Homo sapiens: one gene and its partner. The protein of the gene in region 2 interacts with the protein of the main gene of each other region in a pairwise test. Each region holds a gene or a part of one and is shown on either strand. Other genes may lie near its edges.

Region 1 (3,130 bases), on a different chromosome or scaffold from region 2:
GCTGCGACAAAGGCACGAAGCTCGGAGTAAGAGGAATGGTCAGAGTAAGGGATGACGTGGATATCAGGGTGGGAGCTGTGGATTTTTCGGCTTGTGGGAAGGATAGCAATCGTAGGGTGGGTCTGGTTCCAACGCAGCATGTTGGAATGGCAGATCTCCATATGGTCTACTGCATGGATGCGGCCAGCCTTCTCCTCCACTGTGAACACATCTGCCAGGCCCAGTAGCTGTACCAACTCCAGGCGCCGAGGACTCAATACCACCCAGGTCTGAAACTCCAGGGCCAGCTGCTCCAGCAGTGATTCCTTTCCCAGGCTGTAGAGTCCTAAATAATGTTCAATGTATTGGGGAAAGTAAGAGAAGGAAGAAAATTAAGCTATTGGAAAATCCTAATAAATCAACAAAATGTTTAACAAAAATAGATACAATTCATGGAGAAATCCAGGGAGAATATCAAGGAAGAGGTGGCATTTGAGCTAAGACATATGAAAGGGAATGACACAGAATCCACTCATTCATTTAGTTCAACAAAAGAGAGCATCTAGCAAGTTTCAGGCACCATGAAAACTAATAAAGAAAACTGTCAGTCCTCAAGAAGTACTATCTACAAGGAGACCCAGAAAAACCACAATTAAGAGCAACGTTAAAGATATGTGTACAGGCCGGGCACTGTGGCTCACACCTGTAAGCCTACAATTTTAGGAGGCTGAGGCAGGAGGATTGCTTGAGCCCAGGAGTTCAAGACCAACCTGGGCAACCTGGCAAGACCCTGTCTCTACAAAAATAAACAAATAAGCATGTTGGTGCACGCCTATAGTTCCTGGTACACAGGAAGCTGACGCGGGAGGATCACTTGAGTCCGGGAGGTCCAGGCTGCAGTGAGCTGTGATCATGCCACTACCCTCCAGCCTGGGCAACAGAGTGAGACCCTGTCTCTTAAAAAAAAACAAAAAAAGTATACAGTATTGTATCTAACAGGTGATGGAGTTAGGGAACGTTAGGCTAAATCTTAAAGGATGGGCAAGGTTAACCTGGCAAGGAAAGGGTAGAAAGGGTATAGTGGAAAACATTTTAAGAGGGGTCAGTTTGCTGTTACTAAAGTAAAAAAGGAATTGATAAGAAATGATACCAGAGAGGCAAGCAAGGGCCATATAATAGAGCGTCTTATATGTACCGCTAAGAAGCTTGGACTTCATTGTGTAAGTGAAGGGGAGCCACTGAGTGTGAAGCAGGAAAATGGCTAATTCTAATCATAAGAATAATATGCTCAGAGCAGGGCTTTAAAAAGAAAAATATGGTAATAATATTATTTGACTGCCAGGATGAGAAGAAGCTGGAGTGGAAGTTTCAATTGAAGGGCCCAAATAGTACTTACAGAGAAAGAAATGGAGACATTAATTTGGGAAATGGTTATGGTAACAGATATGGGAGATGTTGTTTAATAGCTGTTCTCAGACTTTTTCTGAAGAAGTTTCAAATCCACAACCAGATTGTGAACGCCATAAAAAGAAGTATATATTATTTATATCCACTTTATTCCTGATTATGGTTCAAAATCTCACTCCTTGGGCACAAATGGAGCGGATTTTTCTTCTCTCTATATATATTCCCACTTCCACCTCCCCACAGGTCCTTCCCTACCAGACTGTGAGCCCTCCAAGTCAGAGACTATATTTTATTCATCTTTATATCCCCACTGCCTATTGGATACTTGGTACTTAGTGGGTAGAGGCTTATTACATATTTGCAAAATTAATTAAGGCTTACTATAGCATCCTCCTAGCCAGCTTTGCTTTTTTGAGAAAATTCTGCATTAAAATATTAAGAATGGTTAGGTCTTTATAAGTAGCTAAGCAATCCTGAGAGTAGAGGATATTTCTCAATCGATTTGGTAGTCACCCTGGAAGTTATATAATTTTTTCAATGCCTTTGTTTAGTCTCATTTTGAAACTCCTTTCAGAGTTGAGACATGTCCTTTTCAAATATTTATAATGGTGGCAAGTCTTTGTCCTTTTGTAGACTCACAAATTTGGAAACAACCAAAAAAGTAATTTAGAACCAAATCTATTACATTTATTTATTTTATAAAACAAAAATGTATTTTCATAAACTATTCCAAATGGCAACTCCAAGAAAGAGTCCTCAACAATGTTTTATACTATTTATAATCAGTACAACAAGCACAAACCTGTTTTTTCAGTATACTTAATTTAAAGCACAACGCTCACTTAAATATCTATGTTCTGATAAATTTCATTCATTCATATTGAATGCTTCTGTGTCAGGCATTAGTGTAGGCATTTGTGATACACCCATAATAAAACAGAGACTGCCATAGTGGAATTCACATTCTAGCAGGGGGAATCAGACAATAAAAAGTCCAATAAATACATAAATTATAGAATATATTGCAAGGTGATGAGTGCATATTGTCCCTCTTCTACTTAAAATCCTTCAATAGCTCTTGGTTGGGTTTAGGATCAAGTCCAAAATGGCTTAACAGCACTTCAGCCCCTCTTGCCTTTTCAGCCTCCTTGCCCACTGTGTGCCTGTCATACTGACTGCTGCTTCTCTGTTCCACAAACACACAAAGTCTCTTCCCATTTCCAGTGATGCTCTTAAGGAGTTTATGCTTGTGTGTGTGTGTGTGTGCACGCGTATGTGCATGGGCCAGAGGAAGTGCATGATAGACAACAAGTAAGCAATAGCATATTTAAAAATATATATAGTATATGAGTGCTATAAAAAAATGAAAAAAATGAATTGGTATGGATGATCAGGAGTTGGGAATGGGGATGGTGGGCAGGTTGCAGTTTTACTTATTTCATTCATTCATTCATTTATTGAGACAGGGTCTTGCTCTGTCATCCAGGCTGGAGTGCAATGGCACTTACATGGCTCACTGCAACCTTGACCTCCTACTGGACCCAGGCAATCCTCCTGTCTCAGTCCCCTGTGTAGCTGGGACCACAGGCACGCACCATCGTGCCCAACTGATTTTTAAATTTTTTGTAGAGACAGGGTCTTGCCATGTTGCCCAAGCTGGTCTCAAACGCCTGGGCTCAAATGACCCTCCCATCTTGGCCTCCCAAAGTGCTGGGATTATAGGCATGAACCACCACACCTAGCC
Region 2 (3,162 bases):
TGTCATCGACAGGCGGGGGTACAGGCGTGGACACAGTGCTGGTGCTGATGTCACCGATGATGTTGAGCGCCTCCTTGAGGGCATGGTACATGCGCAGCATGTCGTCCCGCCGCTGTGCCTGGTCAGCCGACTCCTCCATGAGGCTGCTCTGGTCTGCCGAGGAGTATAGGTAGGCCAGCAGCTCGTGGTGGATGAAGGCCTTCGTCTGCGGGCAGGGGTTGGGGAGGGTCAGGCTTGTGTATCACCCCAACCCAGAACCCACAGTGACTGCTGGAAAAACATCTCTCACAGGGCGGGGCCACCCCCAGACTTTTTTGAAAAAGAGTCTTGCTCTGTCACCCAGGCTGGAGTACAGTGGCTCAATTTCAGCTCACTGCAACCTCCGCCTCCCGGGTTCAAGTAATTATCCTGCCTCAGCCTCCCAAGTAGCTAGGACGACAGGCACGTTGACACCATGCTTGGCTAAGTTTTGTAATTTTTTTAGAGATAGGGTTCCACCATGTGGCCCAGGCTGGTTATGAGATTCTTATTCAACTTATTTCTAGTATCTTGCCTCTTCCATTGATGTCTTTTCTCCTGTTTTAGCTTATTTATTTATTTCCTTAACCTTGGCAGAATAATCCTGTTATATCTTTTTTGTTTTTGCTTTTTTTTTTTTGAGACAGTCTCACTGTCGCCCAGGTTGGAGTGCAGTGGTGCAATCTCAGCTCACTGCAACCTCCGCCTCCCGGGTTTATGCCATTCTCCTGCCTCAGTCTCCCAAGTAGCTGGGACTACAGGCGCCTGCCACCACGCCCAGCTTATTTTTTGTATTTTTAGTAGAGACAGGGTTTCACCCTGTTAGCCAGGATGGTCTCGATCTCCTGACCTTATGATCCGCCTGCCTCAGCCTCCCAAAGTGCTGGGATTACAGGCGTGAGCCACCGCGCCCAGCCAATCCTGTTATATCTTTATTTTTTTGTGACAGAGTCTCACTCTGTCACCCAGGCTGCAGTGCAATCTTGGCTCACTGCAACCTGCGTCTCCTGGGTCCAAGCAATTCTTGTGCCTCAACCTCCCAAGTAGCTGGGACTACAGGCGTGCCCCCCAACCCCCGGCTAATTTTTGTATTTTTAGCAGAGATGGGGTTTCACCATATTGGCCAGGCTGGTCTTTAACTCCTGACCTCAGGTGATCCACCCGCCTTGGCCTCCCAAAGTGCTGGGATTACAGGCGTGAGTGAGCCACTGCGCCCGGCTAATCCTGTTACATCTTCCACCTGGCTTCTGTTCAAACACTACTAGTTTCTGTTCATGAATTTTATACATTGTCCTTTCTGGAACCTCCTACTGGATACAGAAGTTTTTCAGTTACTTTTTTTTTTCTTTTTTTTTGAGACAGAGTCTCCCTCTGTCACCAGGCTGGAGTACAGTGGCATGATCTCCGCTCATTGCAAACTCCACCTCCTAGGTTCAAGTGATTCTCCTGCCTCAGCCTCCAGAGTAGCTGGGACTACAGACGCGTGCCACCACGCCCAGCTAATTTTTGTATTTTTAGTAGAGGGGGGTTTCAGCATGTTGGCCAGGATGGTCTCAGTCTCTTGACCTCGTGATGTGCCCGCCTCAGCCTCCCAAAGTGCTGGGATTACAGGCATGAGCCACCACACCTGGCCGTCACAACTTTTTTTTTTTTTAGATAGGGTCTCACTCCTATCACTCAGGCTGGAATGCAGTGGAGCGATCTTTGCTCACCGCAGCCTCGATCTCCTGGGCTCAAGTGATCTTCCTGCCTCAGCTTCCCGAGTAGCTGGGCCGACAGATTTATTATTTTCTTAAATAATAAAATATTTTTATTTTATAAGAGTCTATTAAAAATGGATAATTATGTCCCATCTTTGGCTGCTATAAAACATCATGGAAAACAATAAGCATGTATAAGCTCACTTTGCACGTGGGCAATTGTCTCTCTTAGAGAAGTTCCTAAAAGTAAACTTGCAGGGTCAAAGGATATATGCATTTTAAATTTCATAGCAGAAGAACCGTATATGTCTCCGATCCTATCGGTATATGAGGAAACATACCAGGACACCATGAAACTGTGAACACTGATCACTACTGAGAATGGGAGCAACAGGGTGGGAGGGCATGGCACGTGGGAGGTGTGTGTGTGTTTTAAATAGGGATGGGGTCTCACTATGTTGTCCAGGCTGGTCTTGAACTCCTGGGATCGAGTGATCCTCCTGCCAAGCCTCCCAAAGTGCTGGGAGTACAGATGTGAGCCACCATGCCCAGCCACACCCTGTGTGGGAGTTTTACTTAGATCCGCAGGTTTCTGTGGTTGACATTCATATACAAAACCCAAGACACTTTTTTTTTGAAAGAGGTTCCTGCTCCATCACCCAGGCTGGAGAGCAGTGGCGTAATCATGGCTCACTGCAGCCTCAACCTCCTGGGCTCAAGTGATGCTCTTACCTCGGTCTTCTGAGTAGCTGGGACTACAGGCATTTGCCACCACGCCCAGCTAATTTTTAAATTTTTTGTAGAGACTGGGGTATGGCTATGTTGCCCAGGCTGGTCTTCAGCTCCTGGGCTCAAGTGATCCTCCCTCCTCAGCCTCCCAAAGTGCTGGGATTACAGGCATGAGCCACTGCTCCGGCCCCAAAGCTGGTTTATAAAGCTTCCTGAGTGGCTAGTGCCATGCCAAAGGCCTGATACACAAGTGCCCTGAGCCCTCTAGCAGCCTGAGCTGGAGATACTATCAGTACAGCTGCATTTCACTGAAGAGGAGCCCAGAGCCCTGAGAGTCTCCAGGGAACCCGGGGCCAGGCGGGTGACGCCCATGAGGAAGAGGCTGGGCCCCAGATCATTAGGACACAGCGGCTGCCCAACACAACCCAAGGGTATGGTTGCAACCAGGGTAAACGTGGGTTTGAATCCCACTTCCCACTTTCCTAAGGAACTTGGGGCAGGTTACTTGATCTCTCTGGCCTTGTTTTCTGTCTGTGAAATGGGGAAGATGGCCGTTCTCCCTCCTGCAGTTATTCTGATGCCAGCCTAAGTTAATTCAGAGAAGGCGCACACCTGCAGTGTTCACTCCAGTTAGTGGACTTGATGGGACTATGGACCCAGTGTGGCTCGGAAACCCTAGGGTTTCCCAAAGAGGATGGCCGTGCAGATTCTGGTG

The links. The genes of interacting proteins can lie anywhere in the genome.
Region 1: the proteins of DNM2 (region 2) and DCLRE1B interact in binary tests that used the Homo sapiens proteins (3 or more experiments, as listed by UniProt).

Annotation. Positions count from the first base shown.
Region 1 is NC_000001.11:113,908,326-113,911,455, reverse strand, and holds part of DCLRE1B (5' exonuclease Apollo), read right to left. Parts: intron 326-3,130; coding exon 1-325.
Region 2 is NC_000019.10:10,826,079-10,829,240, reverse strand, and holds part of DNM2 (dynamin-2), read right to left. Parts: intron 269-3,162; exon of another isoform or gene 206-268; coding exon 1-205. UniProt on the Homo sapiens protein: Catalyzes the hydrolysis of GTP and utilizes this energy to mediate vesicle scission at plasma membrane during endocytosis and filament remodeling at many actin structures during organization of the actin cytoskeleton.